Regions from separate parts of the Homo sapiens genome. Here region 1 is linked to region 2. The links come from fine-mapping of genetic effects on gene expression. A gene starts in region 2. The other region holds a variant in brackets. All regions are shown on one strand. Distances are from middle to middle.

What was found.
Region 1: its variant is fine-mapped to the expression of ANKMY2 in whole blood (INTERVAL, PIP above 0.99).

What each region holds. Positions count from the first base shown.
Region 1 is chr7:16,607,047-16,623,495 of GRCh38, forward strand. It overlaps ANKMY2 (ankyrin repeat and MYND domain containing 2), which reads right to left. Exons shown (of 10, transcript NM_020319.3): 5 at 8,698-8,858; 6 at 3,503-3,717; 7 at 2,584-2,719. LOC105375169 (a long non-coding RNA gene) reads left to right here. Exons shown (of 5, transcript XR_007060226.1): 2 at 6,093-6,226; 3 at 8,980-9,133; 4 at 10,330-10,373. Among named protein-coding and RNA genes, the nearest start is that of ANKMY2, 30 kb to the right of the region's middle. The variant C/T (reference allele first, on the strand shown) is at 10,618.
Region 2 is chr7:16,636,408-16,652,856 of GRCh38, forward strand. ANKMY2 (ankyrin repeat and MYND domain containing 2) reads right to left here and starts at 9,347. Exons shown (of 10, transcript NM_020319.3): 1 at 9,100-9,347; 2 at 1-48. The coding sequence starts at 9,166. It overlaps BZW2 (basic leucine zipper and W2 domains 2), which reads left to right and starts at 9,774. Exons shown (of 12, transcript NM_014038.3): 1 at 9,774-9,881. RefSeq lists enhancers at 9,474-9,753, 11,948-12,459.

The DNA of each region.
Region 1 (16,449 bases), 29 kb before region 2:
AGAGGGTTAGAACTTGCAGAATATGAAAACCAATTAGGCAGTAAACAATGGCTGTGATACGCACAATCACAGGCATTTGGGATGAAGTCTTCCAGACAGAAGAACATAAAACTCTCAAAGAACAAAAATGTTTAAAGAAAAGTCTTTCTAAAATGCATTAAATACTATCTTAACTTTATTATAAACCTTTTCTTGATGACTCAGATCACTGGGATAAACATTAATCATTATACTCTAGGCCGGGTACGGTGGCTCACGCCTGTAATCTCAGCACTTTGGGAGGCCAAGGCGGGCAGATCACTTGAGGTCAGGAGTTCAAGATCAGCCTGGCCAACATGGTGAAAACCCGTCTTTACTAAAAATGCAGAAACATTAGTCGGGCATGGTGGTGTGTGCCTGTAGTCCCAGCTACTCGGGAGGCTGAGACATGAGAATCGCTTGAACCCGGAAGACTGAGGTTGTAATGAGCTGAGATTGCGCCACTGCACTCCAGCCTGGGTAACAAAACAAGACCCCCCTCAATAAATAAATAAAAATAATAATAATTATACTCTATAAACTCTAATTACATTATTCTATTATATGGAGCTAGGATAACTTGTTGACCACAATATTGACCTGCTTTTTTTTTTTTTTTTTTTTTTTAAAGAACTCTGGGTTGCTGTTTTAGTTTTTCTGTTTTTTCCCAGGAAGGTAAAAGGTCAGCAACCATTTGTGAGTGCTGGAAATCCCACATAACAGGTACTGCTAGTTGCTTCTCTGATATCAATTCTCCCAGCTTCCTCAGTAACAGAAGTGTAATTTTGTTCAGAGGAGGAGTGTTTAGAAAAGCCAAAAAAAAAAATTTTCCTGGACTCCTGTGTAGCTAAGGAAAGTCATGTGACACAGGCAGAGGGCTTCTGGGAGAGCTTATGTTTTCCAGATATAGACCCCTTTGCTCTTCCTGCCTGCCTGGGATAGGAATGTGAGCTGGAGGAGGAACATCAAATGCCTCGTAACCATGAGATCATAAGTATGCATATGAGAACCTACACAGCTAAGGAATATTGGAAGGGAAAGATGAGAAAGTGTTTGGGTCCCCAAACTATTTTTAAGTCACTATGCCAGACCTAGTCTGCCTACCTTTGGGCATCTATGTATATGTGAATACATAAACCCTCATCTATTTAATTCATGGTTGGTTGGGCTTTGATATGTGCTGCCAAGACACATTTGTAATTGACAAATCATAATTTGCTAACTTTATTCTTCCAAAAGCATAAACACTAAATAGCCAACTATATTAAAAAGTATGAGTAAAGAAACTCTTGAAAATAGGGGGAGCACACATGAACAAATTAATGCATGAGCTTTATGAGATGGTCTTTTCTGCTCAGGTCTTTCTTGTTTATTTTATGGCTCAGACTAGGTGAATTCTTAATGTACAAAGGAGCATCTGGAGCCCACTTGAAGCCCTGATGTTCCACACTGAGAATGACATAACAACCCAGAGAGAAGGCACAGAGAAGGGAACCAGATTTGCCAGAGGGAGGGAGGAAGCCATGGATGGGACTGGTCTTAGGATCAATTTCTTGCCTGATAGACAAAAGCTGATCAAGTTTTTGATTGAAACGTATAAAAGCATGAATGGGTATAGATAGGGTAAACAAAAACCTATTCAAAATAGAAAAGGTGGCTGGGCGCAGTGGGTCATGCCTGTAATCCCAGCACTTTGGGAAGCCGAGGTGGGTAGATCACCTGAGTCAGGAGTTCGAGACCAACCTGGTCAACATGGTGAAATCCCATCTCTACTAAAAATACAAAAATTAGCTGGGCGTGGTGGCGCGCACCTATAGTCCCAGCCACTCAGGAGGCTGAAGCAGGAGAATCGCTTGAACCTGGGAAATGGAGGTTGCAGTGAGCTGAGATTGTGCCACTGCACTCCAGCCTAGGCGACAGAAACAGACTCTGTCGCAAAATAGAAAAGGCCAAATAAATTAAAATATATGACAAATGAATAGTAAGTCATTTAAATAACAGATAAAGTTAACAAAATACACTTATATAGTGGGTAAGTATAAATAGGTTGTAAGTATGGACATTTTCTAATCAGAGGCATTAAGGTGGATTATAGGAAGCTGAGGCATACTTTGAGATTGTTACCAGGAACCACAATGAGCCTTCCCATGGCTTATCCCACTACATCCCCACTGCCTGGACACTATCCCCCTAGGTGATCAATTCATACTTGCATCTAGTGTATGACTTTGTGCTGATAATTCATATAGCTACAAGTGTACATGTGTGTACCTATATTACATAGTGGATGTACTTAAAATGTAAGTTTCTACCCTAACCATCTACATTTCAACATAGCGACGTCCTGTTTATGAAACTATGAACCATAATAAGGTAAGAAGAGGATCGTGAGATGGGAAATAAATAAACAGGAACAGGTTTGGCAGGCAAACCTATCTCCACCTTTGTTCCTAAAAATATTCTGAAATAATAAAAATAAATATTAAAGAGAACTTGCCTTTAACAATACAATAGGTGGGAATTAGGTTTTACTGATAGAGTCAACTTAGGTAAGAGGAGCCTTACAATTTCAACAGGAGCAATGCTTCGAACCAGCTGCTGGAGGAGTGTAGCTTCACAGTAAGGAAATTTTCTGATACTTTCTCTAATGATCTTTTCTTGATACACTGGAAAGCCATCAGAAGCTCGGCCTTTTAACAAGCTGAAAGATATTTTTTAAAGCGTAATTGGAGTTGAATCACTAAGCATTCTCTCCTAGTTGAACCCAACAGTTTTTAGTAGTTTCTTCTGTTACTTATGATTTTCTTTGTCTCTTCAAATCATGATGACGGGCTCAGTTCAAATTGCTGTTCAACCTATATGTTAGGCTAGGCCTTATAAGGTTTTCCAGCCCATTAAATGAATATGCAAAGGTGACTACCACCATAAAACACACTAAACACTGTTATCAGATTAGCTAGTTACTTATTACCATGTCAGTTATTTGTACTAAGAATGAAAACTCTCATAGAGCCACACCCTTCAGACTTAGTTCCCTTTTCTAGGTAAGGATGCAAGAGAATTTGATCTCTGGTGGTCAGAGAAGCAGCATAACACACAGCTCTCCAAGATACAGTAACAGAGACACCCTGGATGCCATTACAAACCTAGGGCTGCGACCTAGGGCATAAAATATTCTCAAATTTGGACTTGGGCCACTTTCTCGCGGTGTGATCTTACACATGTTATTTAACCTCTCCAAACCTCAGATTCCTCATCTGTAAATTGCTGGTAACAACAAAAACATCACAGTAAAGGATACAGAACTGAATAATCACTCAATATAAGTATAATATTATTCTCTGTTTGTCAAAGACTAAATGTGAGTCCAACAACAGCAATTGCTGCCAAAATGTTTAATTTTGAAACACATAATAATGAGGCTTCATATTAAAAAAAATATTCACTTGAGTGTATTTTATAAACGACATAGTAAAAAGAGTACCTTTTGATCAAGGTGTCCAGTTTATTCTCTCCATCTTTTAAGAAGTTAATGCATTTCTGAAAGATACAGCTTATGTAATGCATCTTCATAGCCAATACTTCATTCATGTCTCTTTGCTTCATACATTTCTCACAAATCAAATCCATCACTCTGTAGCATTTATTCAGGGCTGCTTCTTCTGTCAGCAGAGGATTCTCATTTACAAGCATCACGATCTAGAGGAAATCCCAGTGTACTCAGGTATTAAAGGAGACACTTGTTCATGTACAAATTAGGTAGTCCATTTAGTTGATTTCAAAAGATTACCAAAGAAAGCCTTCCTTAGGATCATGAAGTTATTATGTTATTTGTTAGAATGCAAATTACCCAGAACTTATAGAACTAATATAGAAAGACCCTGAAATAGTGGAATCTCTTGAACTCTGTATATCAAAGTTATAATGTGATCTTCCATCTACCTACACCACAGTGCCAGTATGCCATTCAAGAGCACATGATTTTACAGTCTCTGTTAAATTCACTTTTACTAAAGATAAACATGACAAATTTGTACATTTTACATAAAGAATCAAATCATTGAGCAATAACCACTTTTAGTTAACATTACTCAGCTCTAGAATTTCATGGCTAGGAGAACTACAATTCTCATTAATTCTTATTAAGCACAAGAAAATGAGATTTTTTCAGAATGAAGTCTAAAAATGAAATATGCTTTACTTTCCAATTAACTATATTTCTCTATGGAAATTTTCCTGAAGATGCTTCCAATCATCTACAGTAATGAGAACAGGTCAAAGAGGAAGCCATAAATAACTTTAAAGGGGAAATATTAGAATGATCAAATCTTACACGTTATGAGTCCCACATTTCCTATGTATGCACAGATTATGCTCAAATTTAGTGTAATATGGAGTATTTTTGTATTAGCTTTGTTGTAGGGTAGATTATTTGAAGTAGGTCTGCAAAGGACTGCTGTAAATATCCATGGTGGCATAACAGTAATGTAAACATGAATGTGAGAGTGGCAGGAGGCAGCCAAATGCCTAGAGAGAATAGGGGTGGGTCCTTGGTGAAGCCCCACTTCCAAGCCAAAGACAGTTTAAAGCCTGAAAGCCAAGCTACAAATTAAATCCTTGAACCGGATTGAGAACTTGTCTTCCTGTTTGACTCAATTTCTTCTGATTGATCCCCACCCTTCACCTATTTTACATACACCTACCCTTTCCTAACTGGTTTTCTACACTGTTGTGCCCACCATTGAGTGGTGTCTTCACTTTAACCTTTTTTACATACTCACAAACCAATCAGCATGCACTCCCCTTTCTGAGTCCATAAAAGGACCTGGACCCAGGCACATGGGGCACTTTCCCGCCTTTGGGTAGGGGAACCACCCTGCACTGCGTCTCCTATTTGCTGAGAGCTTTCCTTTCACTTAATAAATTTTACTCCACTCACTCTCCAGTGTCCACCTGTCTAATTCTTCCTGGTTGTAAGACAAGAACTTGGATCTAGCTGAACTAAGGAGCACAAAGACCACAACAAATGTAACAGGGACACAACTGTATGCACAGAGCAGACAGCCAGTCAGTACTTGCTAACCTACCTGTTACAGCTAAATCAATATCCCAGGGACTATACATGTCAGGGAACAACAGGTAGATTTCCTGAATTAGATTCTTTTCTTTAGGCATGAAAAAAGATCATCTATTAGTAAAGCCCATAGCTAGCCCTCTAATTAGAAATTTAACACAGATTAAATGTCCTTGTAAAATTAAACGAATTTCACTTTTTGACATTTATTAGATTTATACACAATCTAGTGTTTTACAAAAATCCAGCACTTAATAATAAGTTATTAGACTTAATGAAGTAAGTATAATCAGAATCCTTATTGATAACTCTCTCTACCAAAACATACTTTGACAATTTATGGTGGAGAAGAAAAGACTCATTAATTATCTGTTTATACTTCTGCTAATTGTAATCATTTAAAGTTGTTTGATCAGTATTTTTATATATGGCATTTATAATCAACTATAGAATCTTAAACTTACAAGTGAGAATTCTTTCAAAAAATTTCAAACAGAGCCCAGATTAATAATTTTTTGTTTGGAGACATCAGACCTTATCTATGTTTTAATACACAGCACAAATATACACCAAGAAAAATGACAAATAACCACATCATTAACATGCGCTTATTGAAACAACTACATAGCTGCACACAAAAGAATAATATTTGTACTTGTTTCCTTCCTTAATCTCTGCAGCATTATGAAGTAATATATTATAAAGGAAATCCTTTTTATTAATTAATGAGGAGGAGCAAATAAATATATTTCTATTGGCATTAAAAACTAGATAAATTTTTACCATTCAAAGGATTGCTACCTGAGAATATGTTTATGTAGTGGCATTTTGAATTCTTTTTATTTTTTAAATCCTATTTTTAAAAACTGCTAAATCTACAATACTGGGCTTGAAAATCACAATAATCAAAGACATGATTGTTCTGTGCACATCTGCCTCCTGTACACTTAGAGACCCTGCTCTGCTGACATTTTTTTCTGTGATTTTGTTTTTCTCCTAGATAACCTTCATATTCTGGGCATCAGCACAATCCTCCAAATCCCTTTTGAAAACAAATGCATCCTTATTGCTACGGCAGCCACTTAATCTAGACACAAATACAGCTATATTAGGTGCACTGTAATGAAAAGTGAGGTGTGTATTGGGGAGAATTTCCGAGGTTGTTTTAAAAGCTGTTTAACATTACACAGTGGTTATTAGTTTTTAAATAATACTCCATAGGAAATGCCATGCTAGCTTAAAAAGGGGGTAGAGCAATAAAAATGGGCCACAGTAACAAAAGCAACTGGGTGGCTTTTAGATCCCAAGGGTGGATAAAAGAAAAGGTTTCGAGCGAATAGATTGTTTATACCTACAAAAAGCAAGGTCTGGTCTGGAGGAAGGTATATAATAGGATAGCCCCCTTCATACTCCAAAAAATATTATGTAGTCTATTTCAGACTATATACCTTTACAAATTATTGTCTGCATAATTATGCCCTCAATCTAATTTACTTAAAATATATACCTTCAAAGATAACTGAAGGTAGAGTATTAATAATTATTAGGACATTTAACCCTGAAAGACTGGGTTCCAAGTAAACATAAAAAATTATTCCATAAGCCTGGCCAACATGGAGAAACCCCATCTCTACCCAAAATACAAAAATTAGCCAGGCGTGGTGGTGGGCACCTGTAATCCCAGCTACTCAGGAGGCTGAGGCAGGAGAATCGCTTTAACCTGGAAGGCCGAGATCTGTACCACTGCACTCCAGGCTGGGCGACAGAGCAAGACCCTATCTCAAAAAAAAAAAAAAAAAAAATTCCACAAACCCTTACTGCAATCTGAAGAGGCAGAAACATAGATATGAAAGACAGTGAATCAGAAAAGTACAGGGAACTTCTTCAAGTCAGTCTAAGCCAGAATATCCTGTATTGCTCAGGCAGTGGAGGAACAAGAGTCTTACAGAACCACACACATTCTCTACATTGAGAAATACTGTACCCTGACAGAAACCTGTCTCCCCATCCCAGCCAGCCCATGCCTGAGAGAGTGCCATGGACAGAGGTCAATGCTTCTCTTGGGAGTTCTCTTTTCCCTAGGTATGCTGGGAGGGAGAGAAACAGTAACACAGAAGAAAATACATATTTTTTAAAGGTTAAATTCTAAGCCCTCTGTAATCTCCACTAGAAACATGAGTATGCAGTTCACAACTGAATTTGCCCACTTAGTATCACAAGTGTTGCCTCTGGCAGTTCTTCCAGAATATTAAGAAAAACTCTGAGTTTTCTAAAATAAAAATAGCAGATTCCACTCTTCTGTCTGATGGGAAAGGTATCTACTAGTTTGTCATCTCTCTTAAGGGCCTAGAAAATTAATTTGGGTGGAGGAACACACAATGAGTAAATTTGGTTTGTTTCTCAACCTTCAAGTACTCAAGAAAGATGCACAGGGATGCATCAACAAAGTAATAAGATTATACACATTTTGGATCTTATATCTTTGAGTGAGTGTCAGTCTTCAGAAGAGTCACCTTATAAGAACTGTCCACTCATTTTCATGATGCTCAGCAGACTCCACAGATTCTTCTTTCGTAATAAACTTCTGGGGAAATCTATTTTACTACATGATAGTAACGCCTTATGTTAAGGAAGAACCTTAACTTTTGACACAACTTAGTATCTTGCTCACTTAAACAGCTCTGAACTACTATCAAATCTTTATGAGTAAAAGCATGTGATAGATACTGAAATTGAAATAGGACCTCATCACTGTAGCACACATGTAGCTGTGTAGTTTTCTGTGATGATTATTGAGGAAATTATACTTGTTTAGCTGGATTTTTTTGAAAAAATTATGTGTAAACAACAACAGCAAAAGCCTGTATTTTTAAAATCTGGAAGACAATAGCAGTGAAATATTTCAGAATAGCTCTTGAAGTTTCCCAGTTAAGCCATTTGAACTTATGTGTTGGCCTATGAAATTTGAAAATCTGATTTGATGAATTACTGGAAGAACTATGTTATTTAAAGGCATCAAATAGCCACTTAGTTTAAAAATGTGCTCATGATTACATTTCAGAATCTTTCTTAGAAAGACAATTATTGTAATAGATGCTGTTAGTGCCCCCACATACATCCTTTTTACCAGGCCTGTATACCAGGCCCCCGGGGCTCTCAGGGTCAGCTACTATGGTCTTTTCTCCAGAGGACTACCCTCATTGAAAGGGAGCCACCTCACTTGGTACTATGTGGGAGGCTGTCCTTTCCCTCTGGAGACAGGCCCCACCCAACAACAGACTGATGAATACAAAAGAATTCCTTTGCCTCTCTGGAGCCACTCACACTCCAGAGCTCCCGGTGGGATGAGGTGGAAGCTAGGCTTCAGCAAACCCATCTCTTTGCGTGGCTTTTCCTGATGGTTTAGTCTGTTTCTCTCTCGCTCACTCACTTCCAGGTTTCAACGGAGAGTGTTCCTTCAATAAATTAACAGGCCAAAAGAGCCCACTGCAAGCTCTACAACTACAAAACCCACCCCAAGACAATTATGATCCTGTATAATAAAAGCAGTTTAAACTCTGAAGCAATATTTACATAAAAAGCAAATACGGTAGACACCACACTACCTTGACAGGATGAAGATTCGTTGTGGTGATAATTTTGTGCAGCGGGCCTGCCAACTTTGGGGGCAGTTTTGGCTCTTTATCCAGTCCCTGGGGCTTAGTGTAATAATCCAGTCTCTCTCGAGGAAAGAAATTGTTGATTATGGTCACACAATCATGTTGACCTTTTCATAGAAAAATAGAAAAGTTGTAGTTTTAGTATTAAAAATAACACATCTGGTTTTTAAAATTAATTATGTTGCTATTTTTGTGATGTAAACATGCACCAATATCTTTATTTTTCAGGAAAGGAGAGTAGAGGAGGAGGAGGAGAGATAAAATATTTTAGAGAACATTTATAAACATTCCTTGTAAAGTTGATAAACAATCTTTGAAAGACACAGAATCCAAAATACATACGAAGATTATGTGGATTACAAAAGAAAGCACTGCTCAACTTGTAAGAGACCTTAAGTATTTTCTAACAGTTGCTTGTAAGTTAAATGTCTCTTCTTCCCAGCCTACGCAAATGATGCTCATGTTTCCCTAATCACATCCAGTTGTATTTACACAAAATTTAAATTTACTCCATATAAAGTATTGTTCTTACTATAATGATAATATTAAACTAAACCCCCTCCCCCTTATCCCCTACCCCCTAAATTTGAGAAAAGCTTGCCCTCTTTGTGAAATGTAGAGAAAAGGCTTTCGCTCCCATAAGCTTGGAATCCACATCGTGGCTTTGCATAGAATTCCAAGCCACTTCTCTAAGCCATCTCTAGTTAAAAATGGTTCTATGAAAGCAAATTCTTCCCTAGCGAAGCTGCTGGTTTGCAAGTGTGCTCCTGCGGCGCCCCCCCCTCCCTAGCTCCCTCTCCACTACCTCTCTGGAGCAAAGCAGTGGCCACTCTGGGCAAGCAGGCAGAAGCCACAGGGCACACAGGAGGGCGGGCGCAGGCTCTTCCTGGATCTCCGGAGGAGACTTCTTCCTCCGCTCTGCCTGATGAGGGCTGGGGGACCAGCGGAGGCGCGCCTGGGGAGAGCGTGCAGACGCCATGGCCCCCGCTCCCGGAGAGTGGTTCCCCCTGGGTAGCCTGCATGGCCCCTGCCTGCTTGTGCTTGGTCCTGGGAGCGCCTGCTTGATCCTGCCGACAACAGGTGACCTGCGTGGGGATGGCACTGTGGGCCAGCTGGACGCTGGCGCTTGAGGCTGGCAGAGGGCTCTGCTTGTCCCTGAAAGTTCCTGGGAGAACCCAGGAGTGGCAGGCTTCATCCTTGTGCCTCAGCTGGTTTGCTGACCAAACCAGCTTAATGTCTCAATTAAATGGTTGAATACTTTTGATGAGACATTTTAGAACTTTTTTTTTTTATGGGAACACCTATCTTTTTATTGAAGCTCGATGTAGATTTTGTTTTAAGGAAGCATATGCAGTTTGTCTTCATCTTCCCTGGTTTCTTCATACACATTTCTAAATTTCCCCACAGTTACCTGTGTTGATTTTGATGCTGTATTCATAACCCACTTGCATTAGATTTGCTTGGTTGAATGTCATTTTTCTCTCTTCTTGAAGATTCTATAAGGAGAGTGATAATTTTCTAAAGTAATTAATTAATGTCTTAATTGAGACATTAAATTTTCTTCTTCCACTGATCCAGGACCCTATCAGCTTTACCTGACTTCCTGGGAGGTACAGAACAAGGTACGTATGGGGATCCAGCAATTCTGAAGACTACGCCATGCCTCCAACAGAGGGCTTCTTGGGTTGAAAGTGTGTGGGTAACATTTACCATAACAATAACTACCACAACTACAGCTAATAAATGCACTTAAGCAGATTCAATTATAATATATAAATAGACTTTCAAGAGCCGCAGAGAGATTCAAATTTTAAAAATTAACAGGCAAACTGAAAGAGGTGATCCTGGTTACTATTGAGAACTAAA[C/T]TAGTAACACAGAGGATGAAGGGCAGGCATGGTGGCTCATGCCTATAATCCCAGCACTTTGGGAGGCTGAGGCAGGAGGATTGCTTAAGCCCAGGAGGTGCAGACCAGCCTGGGTAACACAGCACAAACCCGTTTCTACAAATAATTTAAAAAATTAGCTGGATACAGTGGTATGTGCCTGTAGTCCCAGCTACTTGGGATACTAAGGCAGGAGGATTGCTTGGGGCCAGGAGTTGGAGGCTACAGTGAGCGTGTTTTTTTTTTTTTTTTTTTTTTTTGGGTGAGACAGAGTCTGGCTCTGTTGCCCAGGCTGTAGTGCAGTCACGTGATCTTGGCTCACTGCAACCTCTGCCTCCTGGATTCAAGCAATTCTCCTGACTCAGCTTCCCAAGTAGCTGAGACTACAGGTGTGTGCCACCACACCTGGCTAATCTATTTTGTATTTTCAGATGGGGTTTCACTATGTTTGCCAGGCTGGTCTCAAACTCCTGACCTCAGGTGATCTGCCTGCCTTAGCCTCCCAAAGTGCTGGGATTACAGGCGTGAGCCACCATGCCCAGCCAAAGCTGCAGTGAGTTTTGATCACACCACTGCATTCAAGCCTGGGTAACAGACACCCTGTTTCAACAAAACAAACAAAAAAGATCGAGTGGATGAAATATCTCAAAACAGAAAAATTCAGATATAGAAATCATTATACAACAGATGAAAGAGCTAAAGAACAAATCCAGGAAATCTAATAGTGAAAATTAACAGACATCTCAAAGGAAAAAAAGGAATAGATGGAGAATTAAACAAATGATAAAAGAAAACTTCCCTGATTTGAAAAGAGAATTTAATAGTGATCACAATACCATTTTTGGTACTCTATGCTTTTATTAAGTACCAGAACACCCAATTTCTTTCTTTTTGGGGGGATTCGGGGAGGTGGGTATTTCTTTTATTTCTTTCCCCAGTACATACGTCTTGAAAAGTCAAACAGTAGCAGTCTATATTAAAAATGTGAAATGAGCCAAGGTGCTCTGTTTAGAAAATGATCACCTCTCCTTCCAGAATCTTCAAGAGAGAAAAATGACATTCAACCAAGCAAATCTAATGCAAGTGGGTTATGAACACAGTTATCAAAATCAACCCAAGTAATTGTGAGGAAATTTACAACTGTATGTGAAGAAACCAGAGAAGATGAAGACAAACCGCACATGCTTCCTTAAAACAAAATCTACATCCAGCTTCAATAAAAAGATAGGTGTTTCCACACACACACACAAAAGTTCCAAAATAGCTCATCAAAAGTACTGAACCAGACATATGAAGACTTGAAGATAAAGGAGTCAGAGAAAAATAAGGAATTAGCTTATAACTGTATCTTCTCATCAGTCCTCCAACTAGTACAATTAGGAAAAGCAGGCAGCAGGTAGAAATATCTGTACATAAAAATAATTGCTACATAACAAAGATACTGTCACAAGACTAAGGATTTCTTTATTATACCTTTTTTTTTTTTTTTGAGATGGAGTTTTGCTCTTTTTGCCCAGGCTAGAGTGCAATGGCGCGATCTTGGCTCACCGCAACCTCCGCCTCCTAGGCTCAAGGGATTCTCCTGCCTCAGCCTCCCGAGTAGCTGGGATTACAGGTGCCTGCCACCACGCCCAACTAATTTTGTATTTTTTAGTAGAGGCGGGGTTTCTCCATGTTCATCAGGCTGGTCTCGAACTCCCAACCTCAGGTGATCCGCCCGCCTTGGCCTCCCAAAGTGCTGGGATTACAGGCGTGAGCTACTGTGCCCGGCCTAATTATACCTTTTTAAAAAGAAAAAATAGTATTACTTTACCTTTTTTTCCAGATTAAGGTTTTTCATTTTAGGTAATGCTTATTTTGATATTTTATTTTAATTAATCTGCTAATAACATATTTGAATAATATGTTTAAAGTTTATCTTTGTAAATACTTAATCATTTAGGTTTAAATGTTTGTAATTGAAATTCTTAAATATTTTACTAGTTTTAAATTTATAAATTCTGAATATACATAAATAAAATAATACTACTAATATAGAAAATAAATGCTGCAGGTGGAGAAGCCAGTACATCATTTTGCTCCCATATTACAATCACTAGATTTGAGTCCTCTAGACTTACAGGGCTCACTGAGTGTGATTAATAGGAACACACACATACAACAAGACGTATCCTTTTCAAATTTTTTACTTTCAAGGATAAACTGAAAATCAAATGCTCTTCCAGAATGAGAAATGTAAAGTTTACAATGGAAAGTAAGTTGAATTCTCATTTGCAAAACCAGAACTTAGAAAACTGTAGAATAACTTCTATATGTCGGAGAGAAAAGAACTCTGATATGAGTCAGAAAGCTAGGCAAAATATGACTCACATTTCAGAAAGAAAGGTATTAATAGTTTTGTCATGATGGGTGTCAAAGAATATACAACCTACGTAACCCATTTGAAAAGGTCCTATAACCAAAATCTAAATGAGAACAGAGATCTAAAGACAAAAATGCAAAAATGGAGACAAAGGGGAGGAGAGAGAGGACAGTAAGAGAGTGAGTTCATATGAGTGGGTGAAGATAGATGACAGGCAAATCACACAGCTGGTGGTATGGATTACTGAAAGAGAAGCAACACCCTGTCAATGACACTCTCATTACAGCTTGTGCTAAAAATACTAGACTCTCTCAGCAAAGTCCACAGCTACAGGTATGATTGGCACAGGTTTTGAGGAAGTATCAGAGAAGGCAGAAAGGAAAGACCTGTGGCCTGACAAGGCAAAAACAGAGAATGTGGAGAAATAAATGAAGTATAAGGATTTCATCTTATAAAGTTGCTAAATGGGTAAATATGGGGCCTTGGGGATGGGGTATGTGGTACTGTACAGTTTTGACCAGCCAATCACTTTAGGGAAATACATGTGTACACACACACACACACACACACACACACACACAGATGCATGCACAAACAATAGTCAAGTAAAATAAAGAGTAAAAATGAGGTAAAAGAGGAGGAATGCAACCACATATATCAGTAATTACATTAAATATACATAAGCTAAATACCTGTTAAGAGAGGGAAACTAACATTTTAGATTACAAAACAGAACCCACCTATATGTTTATAAGTTATACTACTTAAATGAAATGATAAAGATTGAAAATAACAGATGAGCAAACAGATCATTGACAAAAAAAGGAATTATGAATAGCTGTAATATCAGTAAAAGTAGAACTAAAAGAATTCAACAAGAAAAAGAGTGACATTATACAATGATAAAACCAATAGCAATATATTAAAAGTGAAAAGCTAAAAATATTTTCATTAAAAACAGGAAAAAGACATGCCAATTATCACTATTATTTCTTCTTACTTGGCCCGAAGCAAATTCAAATAGAAATCAAGATAAAGTTTAATAGCTAGAAAACGCAGTAAACTGTAATAAAAATAAGAAAAAAATACAGAAATCAATAGCTTTTCTCTTTATTATCCATAACCAGCTGGAAGTGACTGAGTGTGGAGGTGGTAGTGCAAATTCTTACCATGTGGACAGTAACCACAAATTACTAAGAAATAAATTTTGAAAGAAAGGATTGATATGAAGGAACCAATTAAATATTACTGAAAGACCAAAAGTCAGTCCCCTCCCCTAAAAGAAATGTAAAAGTGTACTGTGTAATTGGATGGAAAGTCCTAACCTCATACAAATGTTAATTCTCTGCAAATAATTATATAATCATTTAGTAAAAGAGAATTTAACTTACCACAAAGGTGGTATTTCAATTTAGTAGGAAAATGTTAGCTGGTGTAATAAATGGTGCCATCACAATTAGCTATATATCTGGGGGGAAATGAACTCTAAACAAATAAATTCTAGATGTACCAAAAAAATCATAAAAAATAACTGAAGGATATTTAGGAGAATACTTATGTAACTCCTGGTCAAGAGGCCCACTTTTAGCAAAACAAGAAACACGGAAGCTATAAAAGAAAAAATATGACTACTTAAAAATAAATTTCCTGCCGGGCACAGTGGTTCATGCCTGTAATCCTAAGGACTTTGGGAGGTGGGACGATCACCTAAGGTCAAGAGTTCGAGACCAGCCTGGCCAACATGGCTAAGCCCCATCTCTACTAAAAATACAACAATTAGCTGGGTGTGGTGGCACATACCTGTAGTCCCAGCTACATGGGAGGCTGAGGCAGGAGAATCGTTTGAACCCAGGAGGTGGAGGTTGCAGTGAGCCGAGATTATGCCACTGCACTCCAGCCTGGGTGACAGAGTGAGACTCCATCTCAAAAAAATAAATAAATAAATAAATAAATAAATTTCCTATGGTAAAGGTCTCCATAAAGTTAAAAAAGAAGAAGAAGAAAGAAGGAAGAAGAAGAAGAGGAAGAGGAGGAGGAAGAAGAGGAATAAAAAGAAGAAGAAGAAGGAGGAGGAGGAGGAAGAGGAGGACTGGCATAAAATATTTGAAACACATTTGTTAGATAATGGATTTGTATGCATAAAGCTCCTCAAAGCAATAACAAAGGGCATCCCCCCACAAAAAAATGAATAAAGAGTATAAGTGGGTAATCCACAAAAGTGAAAATACAAATTACCAACAACAGAAGTGCTTAATTTCATAAATAATGAGGGGAAAGTAAGTTCACAATGTACCATCTTTTTAACTATCAGAGTGGCAAAAATCAAAGAATGGTAATACTCAGCTCTGATGAGGATATTACTGTGAATTACTATGCCCTTTTGGAAAGGAATCTAGACTTACATTAAAATTAAAACTCTAGGCTGGTCGTGGTGGCTGTAATCCCAGCACTTTGGGAGGCCGAGGCGGGCAGATCACAAGGTCAGGAGTTCAAGACCAGCCTGACCAACATGGTGAAACCCCATCTCTACTAAAAATACAAAAAAAATTAGCTAGGCGTGGTGGCGCACACCTATAATCCCAGCTAGTTGGGAGGCTGAGGCAGGAGAATCACTTGAACCCGGGAGGCGGAGGTTGCAATGAGCTGAGGTTGGGCCACTGCACTCCAGCCTGGGCGACAGGGCGAGACTCCATCTCAAAAATAAATGAATAAATAAATAAATAAATAAATAAATAAATAAATAAAAATAAAAACTCTATATCCTTTGTCTCAGCAATTTTACTTCTAAGAAATACTTTAGAGATATTAAAGTTCTAACATGTAAAAAATATTCAAGTACTAACTTGTAAAACATAGAAAATCAAGGATGATTATTACATTATTTGTAGAAAAGTGGTTAAAAAACTGTAAAATCTGTCAATAAGGGAGAGCTAACTGAACTGTGGAACATCTATATCATGGAGTATCATATAGCTGTTGAAGGAAATGAATTACACCTACTGAGATGGGAGGAACTTCCATGATGTATTAGTAAGTGAAGAAAACAAGCTACAAGGAATATCTGCTGTGTGATGGGTGGCATTTTTAAAAAATGACAAAAATCTTATGTATGTATGTACGCATGTATACATACTGATCCACTTGAAGGAAACAAAAAGGGGAGAATGAGCTTTTTTAAAGGCTAATTATTTGGAAAATACAGTAACAACTGGAAGGGTGCAATGTAATTTTCTGTCTGTGAAATCAGTTAAATATATTAAAATGGAATGAAAACATTACTCTTATTTTAGGATAGGATTGCAAACAATTTTTACTGTAGTAAAAATTTTGTTAGTATTGTAGTGTTAAGAAAAAGAAAGGAGCATTGTGTTAATGCCTGAAAGAAGAGACTCCTCCATTTCCAGACCTGTGATCTTGGGAAATTTTTTTACCTGTATCTGAGCAATATTTTG
Region 2 (16,449 bases):
CACGAACATTCTTGCTGGATAATAATGTTCCAGCTTCTTGGACAGTACCTAAAAAAAAAAAAAAGATGAAAAGTAAGGTTATTCGTCACTAGAATAAGAGAAAAATCTAACATCAAGGAAATAAACCTTAAGGAGTTATCTGTAAGAGTACATCTAGTCAGTGTAGGTTGCTAAGAAATGAAACATCCAATCACATACTATTTATTTTACAAAGTAATTGTCCAGTAGAATAGATTTACAGAAACTAAAAATAGCTCCATCTTGTTTTTATTTTCACTGACCTTAAAGTATATTACATTGGCCACATTTTCCTTTTGGCGGTAATACAATAACCACAAAGCATAAGACTTAATACTGAAAAAAAATCTTAAAGGGTATCTAATCCAAATCACCATCTGAAGCTTAAATTCCAGTCAATGTAATACTTGGAATTCAAAATGCAGTCAGTATTTATATAATTTGTCAGCACCACATCTTGTGAATTGATGACATATTTATAATAGAGTGCTTGGTTTGGAAATACTTAGGTGAAACACATCTTCAATGCCTAGTACTACATTACAGTGCTCTATGATCAGTACTCACCACCCTGAAAGTCAACTAATGTAAACCTTAAGGTCACTCCTCTGTAAATTTGGAAAGAAGCTATAATTGGGCCAAAGTTGTCAGGTTTTTCCAGTCTTCTATAAGGCATAATGACAGAAGCATACTTGCAGGAGAGAATGTTGCTATTATCATTAGTACAAGCCAGCCACACATTTTGCCAAGAAATTTCTGGTTTTACTGGGAAGAGAAGAATGAAATTGAATGTGCTGAGGGAGAAAGGCTAAGATAAGCCTCTCCTATAAAAGAACATAAAAGAATAGGTAAGTCTCCCAATCAGGTTATTTCCTCTCTTTAAATTTAGACTTGTAGTGCAAGACTGTGCTAAACTCTGCTAGCCTTCTAGAGTTAAAGGTGAAATGCAAAATAAAGATTAGCATGCTTTTTTCTCTCTGACCCACTTCTTAAGCAAGTCACCTGAGTTCCCCTCACCAACAGAGAAAAAACAGAAACATCTCCTAGATAGAGAAGTAGCTCTGTTGGGAAAATGTCAAGTGAATGATCTACACGTCCCTGGAGTATGATAGCAGCTATTTTTTTTATAAATAATGCATTTTTCTGACCCTGTATTCCATCTGAAAGCAGTTAGTATCACTGGCTGAATCGCTATGCAAGGGCAAAGCTCTTGTGTGTGTGAGCATGCGAGCCAGTTCTACATGAAACCTTATTCGTATCTGTGTCTTCTCATCAGAGACTTTCTCAAAAATCTTTATAGAAGAATAAAACCAGAACAAAAACCCCGCACCCCAGTTTCTCTTGAGGAAGATGCTTCATCCAAATCCCATTCTCTACTGAGAACCAAAGTTATTTTCTTTTTCTATCTGCCCAAGAGATGTTTTTGCAAGAAAGGGAGAATACTATAGTGATTGTAAGCATGTCAAAACCTGCTACATGGGAAGAGTAGAATGGGGATTAAGATCATAAACATTTGGCTCTCATTAGAGAACAGGCTGATAATTCTCTAAGGTGTTTGCCAAATAGCCAACAATCTAAGTTAACATATTCTGTAAGGGAACAATATATTTTAAAGATGATGCATGTATAATGGAAAACAAACTGTTCTCTCCTGCTTAACTCTCACTCAATAGTCTCAATCCTTCACTTCTGACACCAGATATATGGGGTTTCCCCCATAAACACCAAGCAATTCTCCATTGGACACCAATGGGGTATCCTATAATTTAACTCATTTCTAACATTGTTTATCTAAAGTTAGTCAGATCTTACAGGTCAAGGGCTCAGTCCACAAGACCGTCCCCACTTCAGATGCCAATCATAAGCCCCTGTACTTCTGACTGGCTATAAATCAGGGTTCCCATGATCCCCTCCTCAGGTTCCATAATTTGCTAGGACAGCTCACAGAACTCAGGGAAACACTACTTACATTTACCCATCAATTACAAATAATATTACAAAGGACAAAGATGAACAGCCAGATGGAAGAGGGGCAAAGAGCAAGGTATGTGGCACTTGGCACAGAGATTCCATGCTCTTTCCAGGCACTCATTCTTCCAAGAACTTCCACGAGTTCAGCAATCTGGAAGCTCTCTGCAACCTGTAGTTCAGTAATATTTATGCAAGCTTGATTACATAGGTGTGACCTATTATTAAGTCAGTCTTCAGCTCCTCTCCCTTTCCTGAAGATGCGGGGAGGGGTGGAGTTGAAAAATTCAACCTTCTAATCATGGCTTGGACTTTCTCATGACCAGCCCCCATCCTGAAGCTATCCAACAGTCGCCTCATTAGAACAAAAGACATTTCTAACGCCCAGGAAATTCCAAGGGATTAGAAACTCTGTGTCAGGTACCAGGGTCAAAGACCAAATATTAGAACAATAGATGCACCTAGCACCCCATTGTTCAGGAGATTATAAGGGTTTTAGGAGCTCTGTGTTAGGAGCCAGTGGCAGAGACCAAATAGATATTTCTTATTATATCCTACATGTACACGTACCCACAATCACACTAAGGTTAGCCTTTTGAAATGCAGGGGCTGGAATGAGAAAAATAATCTGAAACAGATTGGGCTTCTAGAGGGTAAAAATAGATTTGGAACATGGATGAGCAAAACACTCCAAGAGGAAAAACTGTGATGATTTCCAATTCGGTGTTCACAATGTAATGACATTAGTCGGAAATTATAGAAGGTCCAGAATAGCATGGAAATGTGAAACACATGGCTCACACAGAAGGATTTTTACTTTATGTCATTCCTACTGTCCATAGTAGACTTAAATAATATTTTACAAGTAAGTGTAAAAGATTAATTGCTTTATTCTGGGAAATAAATATGTTAAATCTGATTTAACAAACTGCTGGGGGTGGAAGATAGAGTACTATAAGAAGGGATGTGCAAGGAGCCAACATTTACCTTCATTGGAGATAAGAAACAACAGACCTAAACTAATTAAAGTAATAATTAGTGATTTATTTCCCTTTAGAGAATTCCTCCAACTGCTCAAACCAAAGAAGAAAATACAGCATAACCTGCCTCATTAGGGTGGAATTGATCACTTTATCTGGATGAACAAGCATTTTAGGAGAGAAAAGATTATGTACATAATATTTTCCCAGCATGGACAACATAGTGAGACCCCATCTCTACAAAAAATTTTCTAAAAAATTAGCAAGGTGTGGTGGCATGGACCTGTAGTCCCAGCTACTCAGGAGGCTGAGGTGGGAGGATTGCTTGAGCCCAGGAAGTTGAGGCTGCAGTGAGCTATGATCATGCCACTGTAATCCAGCCTAGGCAATAAAGTGAGACCCTGTCTCAAAAGAGAATGATATTCTTAGTGTTACTGCTCTCTCTTCTACTACATTATAGCTTTTTCAGGAATACTATAAAGTGGAACAAGACCTGCAAAACTTGGCCAGGCATGGTGGCTCACACCTGTAATCACAGCACTTTGGGAGGCCAAGGCGGATGGATCACCTGAGGTCAGGAGTTTGAGACCAGCCTGGCCAACATGGTGAAACCCCATCTCTACTAAAAAAAAAAATACAAAAATTAGCCAGGTGTAGTGGTGCGTGCTCGTAGTCCTAGCTACTCAGGAGGTTGAGACAGGAGAATTGCTTGAACCCAGGAGGAGGAGGTTGCAGTGAGTCAAGATCGCGCCACTGCACTCCAGCTTGGGCGACAAGAGCGAGACTCTGTCTCAAAAAAATAAGTAAATAAATAAATAAAAGTAAATAAAAAGACCTGTAAAACTCTCAGTTTCCTTATCTATGAAATAAGGATAACAATATCCATCCCACAGTTATCTGAGGAGTGTCCTAATGTGGAGCACATATAAGCCTTTATTAGATCTTCTTTTTATTTTGTATTCAGAGCAGCACAATATAATTCATTGTAACATTTCTAATATCTAGATCGGGAACACGGGTCTCTACCAAAGACAAGAAGATGCAGCCAAAACAAACAGAACAGGAGAAACAAACATTCTGTTTTCAGCAATTCATCACACAACCATGAGATTCAAACACGTATAGATTTCAATCGTTATTCATTATTATTGTTTTAATTTTTTATAGATACAGGGCCTTCCTCCATCGCCCAAGCTGGAGTGCAGTGGCATGATCATGGCTCACTGCAGCCTTGAATTCCTGGGTTCAAGCAATCCTCCTGCCTCAGACTCTTGAGGTGCTAGGACTACAGGTGCACGCCACCGCACCCAGCTAATTTTTACATTTTTTGTAACAACGGGGTCTCACTATATTGAGACCCAGGCTGGTGGCAAACTCCTGGGTCCAAGTGATCCTCTTGGATCCTCCCAAAGTGCAGAGGGGTCACTCTACAGGCATGAGCCACTATGTCCAGCTGGATTGCAATCATTATTTATTGGAAGCCACGAAAACGGATATTTTAAGGAATATATAATCAAGTTAAGGATTTAGAAATCTATTTGGCTTTGTTAGTTGTTATAGTGTTTACGTATAAGTAAAATCATGTAAAAATGTTTAAAGTGCCTTAATTTTAAAACAAGAACATATGGATATAGATTTTGATATAATCATAGATATAAAGCTATAAATATATTTTAAAAGTGAAACCCCATCTCTACTAAAAAGACAAAAATTAGCCGGGCGCGGTGGTGCACGCCTGTAATCCCAGCTACTCAGTAGGCTGAGGCAGGAGAATTGCTTGAACTTGGGAGGCAGAGGTTGCAGTGAGCCGAGAGCGCACCATTGCATTCCAGCCTGGGTGACAGGGTGAGACCCTGTCTCACACACAGACACACACACACACACACATAGTGGAGACTTCTAATTATAACATGCATTTTGAAATCGTGAATTTGTGCGATGTTTCTAAAAGGTCTCCTACTCATATCTATTTTTAGACTTTGTAAAAAAATGATCTTAAATTAGTATTACAGAGCACTGTATAAAATTGGGAGTATCTAAAAGAGCTGTTGCTGTGAAAATGAAGACAATGAAGCCCATATAGGTTGCATAACCTGTCCAGCCATCCAACTAATGGTAACCATATATTTTAATTTTTTCTTTGAACTCTGTACTATAATTGGTTATAAGCAGACTTGAATGTTTCTCAACCATAAAGACACCAGAAGTATTATTAACGACACAGGACCTTAGAACAGGATCTTATTTCAATAGTCCCAAATTGGAAACAACAATTGGGCATCAATGGGAATGGATGCACAAATAGTAGTATATCCTTCCACTGGAAATAAAAGAAGAAAATAAGCTACATACTATTGGTACACATAATAAATATGAACCCCAAAATCATAATGTTGAATGAAAGAAGCCAGCCCCCCCTCAAAAAAAGGATACTTATTGTATGATTCTACTAATATAAAATTCTAGAATAGAGAAATCTAATCAACAGAGGCAGAGATCTGTTAGTGGTTGCCTGCAGATGGGGGTGAAGTTAGTGACAGATCACAAAGAGGCATAAGGACTTTTTAGGGGGTGATGAAGATGTTCATTATGTTGATCTTACTGATGGTTTCACAGATGTATGTTTAAATCAAAACTGATTAAAAAGTGTGTACTACCTGTAATATGTGCAATTTATTGTATCTCAATAGTTGGTAAGAAAAAGCCTTATTATCCAAACTTGTTTCATAGCTCCTTTACACAGATATGAAAAAAAAAAAGGAAGTATAATACTTTCTTGTTAGCAACAGTAAGCCCAGGAATTTCAGGTACTAAATAAGAGAAGTAATGTGAAAATTATCTAGCTCATAGCCTTAAAAAAGGTTTAATTTATTTCATAATAGTGCTTGCTCTGAGATTAATGAAAAAGGTATCAAAGCTTAGAAGAATGGGTAACTCTACAAGTCATATAAGCCAGTTAAACACAGTTCAGTGATTTCAATTTCCTCTTACATACTGTTAAATGAATGCTGTCATTAACTATGATTTAAATGGGTATGTTGGAAACAGATTTTCATTTTCATCTGGAACTTCTTGGCATTCTAATAAATAAAAAGCCCCACTTAGAGTCTGTCTTTCTGGAGAGCAGTGGCTGGCAGATGGGAATCACTTAAATATTTGCCGAGTTTATTTCAGATTGACCAAGATGCCAGGCTAGACTTTGCTGAAAAGTTGTTAGTTCAAAGTACTAGAACTTATTGTCTCATCTAGAGTTTTTCAAAGTTGAAAAACGTATGAAAGAAAAAAAAAAAAACTCACTTCACCCACTTTAAAAAAAATGCCTCTTTTTGGCACAAATATAAACTTTGCTTATGGCCTTTCTTCAACTATAAAATAAAAATTTACTTTAAATTTAATGCACACAGAACTACAAAATCAGTAACATTTAAAACTGAGTTAACTTGACAGATGTTGTTTTGCTAGAACTAAATGACCTCTCAAAGTGAATATTGTATGGACTGCTATGGTACTGTTTCATGTTTTGTTTAGTTTGTTTTTAGGTACAGCCTGTTTATTACCTATGGGCCCTGTGATACCTCTGCTCTGCCACTTTCTGCCACTTACCTGTTTGACACTAAGTTTCCTAACTTCCCAGTTCCTCAGTTGCCTTGCCTATAAAGTGAAGATTACTATATTTATCACAAACACAAGCAGTATTTCGAATGCTTTAACTATACTAACTACTTTCATCCCCATAACAACGTTGTGAGGTGGGTATTATTATTATTCCTATTTTTCACACAGAGGACTTGAGGCTCAGGAAAAGTCACTTGCCCAAAGGCCACATCACCAGTAAATGAGTTAGAATTTCAAACCAGACCTGCATGGTTAACCACTATCCCATGCTGTCTCTCATACTGTCATAGCTTAAAATTAATTCCTAGCTCATCCAAATTAAATGCATTAATATATGTAAAGTACTTAAAATTATGTGTGGCTTGCAATAACAGTCAATAAACGTTGGCTATGGTTGTTTTTCTCATATCTCCCATTACTTTTCTTTATGAGTGCAAGTGATGTCCCACAGACCTTCATTTGACAAGAATGCATCACATACTAGGTCCACATCAGTTCTTTTCTCATTGGCATGGTCCAATGAAAGCGATGAAAGCATCAGTGCACTCATGCAACTTGATGCACCGTGTGAGCCCAGAAATATCACAGCACTAACCAGAATAAATGCACATTAATTCAGGTTTATATAATCTTCAAAATAAATACTGATGGACACCTGAGAATGTATCCAAGGAATCCCTTCTCCCCTCTCAAAGACTCAATTTATAAAACTGCTCACTATTTTTCACTTTTAAGAGATCACATGATGGGCCAGGCCCAGTGGCTCATGCCTGTAATCCCAGCACTTAGGGAGGCCGAGGCAGGAGGATCACTTGAGCCCAGGAGTTCGAGAGCAGCCTGGGCAACATAGGGAGACCCCCACCACCCCATCTCTACAAAAAAAAAAAAAAAATCTTTCTAAAGTAGCCGGGCATGGTGGCTCGCACCTGTAGTCCCAGCCACTAGGGAGGTGGAGGCTGCAGAGAGCTGCAACTCCAGCCTGGGTGAAGAGTGAGATCCTGTCTCAAACAAACGAGAGAGAGAGAGAAAGAGACAGCGAGAGCGAGAGAGAGAGAGGACATGTACTAGCTCTGTCCTGCCTAAAAGAATTTTTGTCCCTGGTGGATTGTGAATTGATCCTTTGTCTCCTTTTTGCCCAGCACAGTACCTGGCACACAGCTAGAACTTGCATGTTTGCTTAATTGAATCCCAGAGCCATCAAAGGCAGGGAGAAATTACCTAGAGACAGGAAGAACTGAAAGACTGAAATGCCAAATAGGTCAGCAAGAACCATGCAGTACAACAATCTAAACTCTAACCCAAATCCCCAAATTCCAGGCAAAGAACACATCATTGATAGATATAGCTGTGACTGACTTAGAATAGTTGAGATCAGATCGGGTGGGCTCAGCTCATCAGCACCTGTTGAGTTCAAACCGGAATTTTTTCTCCTTCGCATGTGGAGTTTCCTTGTCGCTATGAAGAATAAATCTGCCTTATTCTCTAGGATTCCACATTTCAGCCTGGCTACTAAGTAAATAAAACTGGAAACTGGGAAGCCTTATGCTGCAATGACTGGCATCTCTGCCATTCGAGGACAAACATGGCTATATTATTATTGAGTTTAAAATCACCACATTAATTGCCCGGAGTCGCACGCATCACCATCCCTGCACCGTGAGGGTGCAGAAGAAGCATGCAGTCACGCTGATGTCACCTGCCAGGTAACGGGACTCGGCAGGGAACTCCTCTGGGACGTCCACTCGGGGACTCCGGGGAAATATGGCTTCTGGCTCGTCCTCGGGGCTCCCCGCTGGGACTCAGCACTGCGGAAGTGGGGCACGCCTTGGGGGAGTGGACAAGAAAGCGCGAAGGAGCGCGATTAGAAGGTCTCATCTGTGCAACGTGGGCCGAGGGGTGGGTGTGGAGGCCTCGCCAATTTCCTTGTCTCTCTAGGGTTCCTGAGGCTGTCGGGGCTTCTGGAAGCCAGGGAGGCCCTGGATACGGAAGTCTCAATGCAGCAAATTACAGACCTAGTTCTGTACCCTTATGAAGAACCCCTCTCCCTAAGGGCGCCCTCCACTCCCAAGCGGGGGCGGGGATCGGCAAAGGATCCAGATCATTCGGCCTGCGGAAGTCTAAAGGGTCATTTAGACACCCGCCTAAGAACCTGAAACTACCAGGACTGACCGCGGTCAAAATCCCTCGGGAGCAGTGAAGAATTCACACACTGGGGTCCACACCCCGGGAAGCTCGCATTAACCTAAGGCGGGGCGTGGAAATCCGTACGTTTCCAAAAGCGGATTTAGAGGCCGAGCCTCTGTAACTACCCCTCTTGTCCCAGCACTGCTTCTGCCTCCCCACCTCTCCGCCCCTGCAACCTTTCCCAGACCAAAGGGAGAAACGCTCTTTCCCGGTTCCAGGCTGCAAACCTTGCAGAACCGCAGCCAAAGGTCACCCAGGCCAGGAGCGCCCCCCGGGCTCCGCCACGCCCCCCGGCCAGGCTGGCCGCGGCCGCGTCGCAGCCCAGCACCCGTACCTTTCCCGATGACTTCCAGTAGCTCCTTCTCCTCCTGGGTCAGCTCGCCTTTCTTTATGTGAACCATTGCTCCCGCCAGCTTGAAGGTTATTCCCTTTCTTAGGGAGTATTAAAAAAGAAACGATGCGTCTGTATTGGGAACGCCAGCCGCAATGAGGCAACTTGAGACCAAGACACTGAGTAGCCAACCGCGGAAACGCTTCGCTTCTCTCCTCCCTCCCGCGGGCTGGCGGACAGCGGGCGAGCTCGGGCGAGCCAGGCGGACGGTCTCCGCAGGCCCTGCGGCGGTCACCGCCTGCCGCCTGTCATTGGCCCTGCCGAGGAGGAGGAGCCGCAGGAGGCGGTAGCGAGAGATCGCCATTGGAGCAACCTGGGAGGACAAAACCAAATGCAGAAAGCTGGAGGGGGGAATTAAATTCCTCCTACACGTTCCGCTCCCCTATCCTGTCCGGTTCAAATATTTCGCCACATGTAATATTGAAAATTCTACAGCTGGCAGTTATGTGCTCAGCGACGGCTTTCTGGGGCATGCAGAGGCCCCAGGTTGTCGCCGTACCCCCACCATTCCCCCGGGAGTGGCGCAGTCTGGGCGGGGGCGGTCTAGGAGACGGGGGCGGTACGGGAGGCGGGGCTGCGCCGGGTTCCGTGTGTCTATGTCAATGTGTCTGTCCTTCACTCCTCCATTGTCTGCCGCCACTGCTGCTGCTGCTGCTGCTGCCGCTGCTGCTGCACGAATCGCCGCAGCCCCCAGCCTTGCGCGTCGTCGCTACCTCCTCGGACAGGTGAGAAGCAGCCCAGGTGAGGCAAGGGGCGCCGTGAGGGTTGCGAGAGTAGCGACTGCCGCCCCGCCGGGGTTTCCATCGGGCAGGAGCTGGCGGGGAGGAAGCATGTGCCTCCTGGGGCGGCTTCCTGCCTCGCGGTGGAGAAGCCCCCGCTCCACCTCATCATCACGGCGCGTACGGGGTATCAGTGCCCTGGGATGAAGACCTCCGACTCGCAACGTTTGGCCGCCTCGGGAGACCCTGGGACCGCGGGCGGGCGGGCGGGGGCCAGCCACGCGGTGGGAAGTGGCGGGTGCACATGGTCTCGTGCGTGGCACCGCCAGATGCGGCTCCCGGGGAGGCTGGGGCCGGGGCTCTGGGCTAGGTAGGGGTCGCAAGGACAGCGCCCCATTACTAGCGAGTCAGTGAGAACAGACTCGGGAGAAGGTAGTTTTTACGCTGGTGATCCTCGCCCTCCCCACTACTTGTCATCTCTTTGGCCTCTGTGGAAGCTGTAGAAGAAAACCTGATCGCCCAATGTTGCTTGTTAAAGATGTTTGGAAACAATTTACACTTGCACTAATACTTCGTTTATGAGAGACAGCCTGTGGGAGGGGGAAGGAAGGGCTTCTTTGCTCTGCTAGAGTTCTCGGTTCTCTTTGTAACTCAGATCTTGAGATTTATGGAAATAGGGAGTGGAGGGTGGGGAGGTTGGAGAGGGCGGAGATTAAATTGGTGTTGCTGCCTATATATAGCCTTAGATTAGCCTCTTAATCCAACCTTCATTCAACTGTAATATGTAGCCTGGAGCTTCGACCATAGGTAGATGGGGGTAAATACAAGTGTGTATTTCAGAATAAGATTTGCTTGCTAAAATGCGGGAATCAGTCATTTCTCCAGGGTGCAGATTTATATTTACATCATCAATGAAAGTTTCTTTGGAAATTAGTGTTTATGTTTTACTGTTGTTTCCCTACAGAGTAGTATTGATGTTTCTCTCAATATGTGTGTCAAAGAGACGTGTATGTGTCAAAGAGAAATATTTGAGTAATTATGTAGGTGGTTTTTGTTAAGCATCCCCAGGACCACTGTTTCTTCTCATAGCGCCATACGAAAAGCGAAATGCATTTTCCTCTGGCCTTAGGCATTTATTTTGCGTGAAGCTTTCACTAACATCTGAAATCTCCTGGAATATGTTTATCATTATTTCCTGCCTTTAGCAAAAATCTTTCCTAAACTCCAGCTGTTTTTCCCCCCTAAAGCTTCAGCATTAAAGACTGGGACAGATCTGAGCCAGAACATCTTACATGAAAATGGTTTGAAATTATTCATCTCAGTGTATAACAAAGATACTTTTGTTGGATGATGCTTTAATAATGATGTGGCTGTTCAAGCAAGTAGTAAGGCTCCTGAGAGTGACCAATCTTTTGTAATGCTGTTAGTTCAGAGTTACAATTGATTTATAACATAGTATCATGCGGAAGAAACCCACAAACCTAAAAAAACAGTTGAGTGGTAACCTCCTGGAACATGTGATTTAGCATCTTACCAGCAGATGCATACACATAATTGGGTACTTCATTGCTAGTATTTCCATCTCTTGTGCCAAATCTGGGCCATGGTTACTTGAAGGTCACACCTGTTTGTCTCACTGGGGTTGTCAGTTCCTCGAGGATAGCAGCTTACTATCTATTTTCTTGATGCCTTATGACACTTGGTTGGTATTTAGTGCTCTCTGAATACATGACCAGTGAATTTAGAGACAATAACGTTGAAAGAGAATCTAACATCTACCTAGAAATGCAAATAAATCATGTTCAGTTTACATTTCTAGAAACAGATTCATAATGGGTACTGTTCATTAGATGGATTGATTACATTAGTAGTTTTGTATGGTGTAAATATTTAATGTAGGGATAAGATTAGATAATGAGCATATTAAAACAGATTCACATCAAAGAAGTTTTATTGATAATAAGATAGCTACTTCATATTGAGTATTTAGTCTGTGCTAGATATTCTACCAGATGCTTTGCATAGAATTATTCTAGTGTTATGACAACCCAGGAATGAGCCAATATTATACCCACTTTGCAAATAAGAGGACAGAAAGTAAGGGAAATAATTTGCCCACAATCCCATATTAGGAAGTGTCAAGTCAGAATTGGAATAATGATTTCTGAAATGTTTGAAATGTTGTATGTGTCCTCTCATATCTACCACTCTAGAGCTATTGCAATGCATCTTAAGTAGCCTGCTTCTCTCTCACCTGTCTCCATCTAGCTAATTCAGGGAACTACCAGTTCAATAAACATTGAGCACCCATCATTCTTTGAATGGCTCTCTGCTGGCCACAGAATAGAGGGCTGGGTCTGGCCTGGAAGGTTCCAATCCATCCATGGTCTCAGCAGGCATTTCCAGTCATCTGGGCCCTCCCACACACTGGGCTCTAAGGTCACCACTCTGCTTGTTCCCCAACCTGCCGGTAATTTCCACCCCTTTGTTCCTGCTTTTCTCCTCCTCTGAATGATTTCCCTTCCCTTTTCACTGAATCTCCTCTCCAGATCTGATGAACTATTCAACTTTCCAGACACAATTTAAACAAAACCTCTTTTCTTCAGCTTTTGTGTTCATCTCTCCCTCTCTATCCAGTAAGGGAAATATACATGCTAGTAAATACATTTATTCATGTCTCTTGGCAAGGGTTATAAGTAAAATCTTTGTACATGGAGGATATTGATATGCAACATGGCTACTGGTATCATTGCTGGCAGCCTTTAATTCTCTCTTCTTATGGATTCTAGCGACCCCTCTTTTACCGCCCCCCTAAATTGACATCATTGCTTCTTCATCTGAATCTCCATGAAAATACCTAAAACAAGCACTTTCTCATCGCATTCTATTATAGTTATTATTAATCTGTTTGGTCCCTTCTCATTCTACAGTATACATTAACTAGGTCAAATTTATCTTTGTTTCTCAGGTTTAACCCAGTGTCTTGCACCTAGTGTATGCTCAGTACAAGCTGAGTTGAATTCAGTTTGATTTCTAAGTTATTTTAGGTGGATTTGTTTTCCTACTTGACTAATCCTTCCTGGCAATGTGAGGTGAGGTGGCACTAAGCACGCACAATCATAACCAGAGGCAGAAAGTCTTTAAATGTTTTGGATCTCAAGCTTCTTGACATTCTGATGAATGCTATCAACCAAGAAAAATTGTTCTTGTGCACATGTTACAAATTTGGCATGCCATTCTTAGATTTCCCCATTAAAGACCCTGATTTCCAGCTCTCTACATTAGGAGAATGCTGCCTTTTTGTTGCATTTTTGAGTATTACATCTTTCAGGGTACTGTTTGTCTTGACATTTGACTTTTTTTCCTTAGACTTAGGTATCTTTATTGACTGGATATTTGATAATAAGAAATTTTGATTTTTTTAAGTTGGAAGTAGATTACGGTTATATTTTTAAAAGATTACTTATCTTTTAGAGATAGGAACAGAATTATTTCAGAACTGGATGAGAAGACAGCTGAGATTTGCTTTAATATAATTCTGTGACAGAAAGGAAGAGAGACTGAATGAGAATATAAATGAGATAAAATTGACTATGTTAACAGTTGAAGATGGGTGATGAGTATATTCACTTGATTATACTGTTCTCTCTACTTTTGGATATATTTGAGATTTTCCATAATGAAGTTTTTAAAAAGAAAATTTGGAAGTATTACAGCCTCTAAGAAATCTTTTTTTTTTAAACACAACATAAGAAAGTAATATAAATACAAATGTTCTTTTTTCTATACTTGGAGTTTCGCTTATGTGATTATTCATTTAAGTGTTAAAACAGTTACACCTAAATCTGCAAAGAACTGTCTTGTGAACAATGCGTTTCCATAAACATTTGACATCACATTTTAACTTCTCCAAAAAGTAAAAGGTTGGTGGCATTACTCAGTGCTTGTAGAACAAATTGATGAATATCTTACTGGTAGTTAATCTTCATCTTTTTTGAAAAGAAAATTCTGAAGAAGGGGTACAGATACATTTAGTTTAACTGAGAAAATCAAGAGGTGAATGAAGTGGAGATACTGATGTTCTTCTGTGCGTCATAATCCAACTCAGAAGGCATTCCAAAAAAAAAGAGTACCAAAACTGTTTCGAGCAATGTCAGCACTGATAGGATAAGTATTAGTCTAGGAAAATCAGGAGCAGGCCCAGGACAGGGTGTGACTGGTAGGTTCTTACTCAGTGTTTGCTTAGCTGAATACTTAATCTGACACCTACTTTCTAATTTGTGCAATTTTTTAAACTGATTTTTTGATCTTTACAATTTTTTATTGTGTTTTAGATATATTAAATGTCCTTTATAACATGTCATCCTAGACTTTGGGATTTTACAAGAATATTTAATTAATATGAAATCCACCAATCTTAGCAGGTCATAAACAAGAATACTTTTCATTCTTAACTCACTCATTTCTGTGTATTGAGGCCATGGCGCTCTTTAGCAAGTATCTTTTGGGCAGTTAGGTGCCGAGTGGAATGATTTGCCCCGTTCTAAATTTGGCGTGTATTAAGTGAAGAGTGCCAAAATTGTTCAGGTAGTCATATTTGTAAACTATCTATTTTGAAAATAAAGATTTGAATAACTCATTGAATGAACCATTCTTTAAGGTTAAATGCCAAAAAGATAATGTTCTCATTATTCTTTCTTGATTTTTAGCAATAGGTGTTTCCATTGATGTTTTTTAAGTTTATTCAAAAATTAAAGGAAAAAAGTATAATGACAAAAAGAAAGAATAATGCCCTGTATTAATATTTAAGATAGTATAATCCTTTGGCTATCTTTAATTCCATTCTGAAAATATTAATATTTTAGTAGGAAAACAATAACTTAAGATGTAGAATTATTTTTTGTGTCAGATGTAGCATTATATTTTCTTTTTACATCTCAACTTATTTTTATGCTAGATGAGAACTTTAAAAAATATAACAGGTGTACTGTTATTTTTGAGGACTTCTAAATAAATCTCAAGAAAAGCCCTGGGGCAGAGATGAATAATAAGGGATAATAACGTTTAGCACTGTAGAGAATATATCATAAGCTACTATTGGATGATATTCTACTGTCATCCTTTTTATATATCCACACAGAAGACTTTAATGGTTTTCAAACTAACCTGGATTTATGGTCATTTCTAAGAAGAAAAAAGAAATGTTATATGTTTTTCTCAGTGAACAAGGTAATTGAATGGGACTATTATAAACAGGAAAGAGAACCCCTAGTTGTCGGTGCAGAGGAAACTGCTGGCTGGAGGAAAAGGATGCGGTGTTAGTATTTGGGAGTGTGAAGATTGTGTTTGTGTTAGAGTTGAGCTTCTGCAGGAAACAATTTAAAAACTGTATCCTATAGTGCTAGAAATTATGGTGCCATAAATTTTCTAATATTCGTATGTCCCTAAGAGGCAATATTGTTAAATTCTCTCTCTAAAGATAAATGCCTTTTCCCCCCCACCGCTTAATAGAACTCTATGGAGAACTCTTTGGTATTTTGGAAGTAACATATGCTAATTCAATTTATCCAAGTGCTGAACTCAACTTTAAATTAATATTTATGCGCTACTCCATCTTATTCCAAACTATAAAATTTATGAGGCAAATAATGAAAAAGCTGTCTTCGAGAATCATATAAATAATTCTCTAAGACATTGCAACAGCTTTAGTTGGCTCCTTGGAAAATGCACTGAGTGGAGACAGTGGATCAGGTTCTGGCCCCAACTCTTCCATGTACATAAGCTCCAGATGGGCAGGGATCGTTCTGCTTTGATCTCCACTGTCTTACCAATGCTAGAATGGAATTCCTGACCTCAGCCAAGTGGTTTGACATCTCAGTGCCTTATCTGAAGGTTAGCTTAGGGACTGGGCTTACATCCATGGTTTTCAAAGTATTCCATTCCGCGTGGATGCCACTTGTAAGTTACAAAGTAAAAAAACACGCACTTAATTATTAAAACGTTAATAAACACAACTGCATCTCGAATGCATCATATGTTGTCTTTAAACATACTGGAGACAATCAGTGCTTGCTAACTTGTTCTGCCCGATTGTGCAATACTTGGAACAAAGCTCCACCTGCTAGAAAGTGACCTCCATGAAATTTGCCTGATTTAGTGCTTGCTGCATCCCTATTGACTAGTACCAGACCTGGTATATTTGGCAAACAAATAAATGAATGATTCTCTGTAGGTTTAAACCTTTTTCTTTTGAGACGGAGTTTCGCTGTTGTTGCCCAGTCTGGAGTGCGATGGTGTGATCTCGGCTGACTGGCTGACTGTAACCTCTGTCTCCTGGGTTCAAGTGATTCTCCTGCCTCAGCCTACCGAGTAGCTGGGATTACAGGCGCCTGCCACCATGCCTGGCTAATTTTTGTATTTTTAGTACAGACGGGGTTTCACCATGTTGGCCAGGCTGGTTTCGAACACCTGACCTCAGGTGATTCGCCCGCCTTGGCTTCCCAAAGTGCTGGGATTACAGGCATGAGCCACCATACCTGGCTTAAACCTTTTTAAAATGTATGATTCAGAGAGC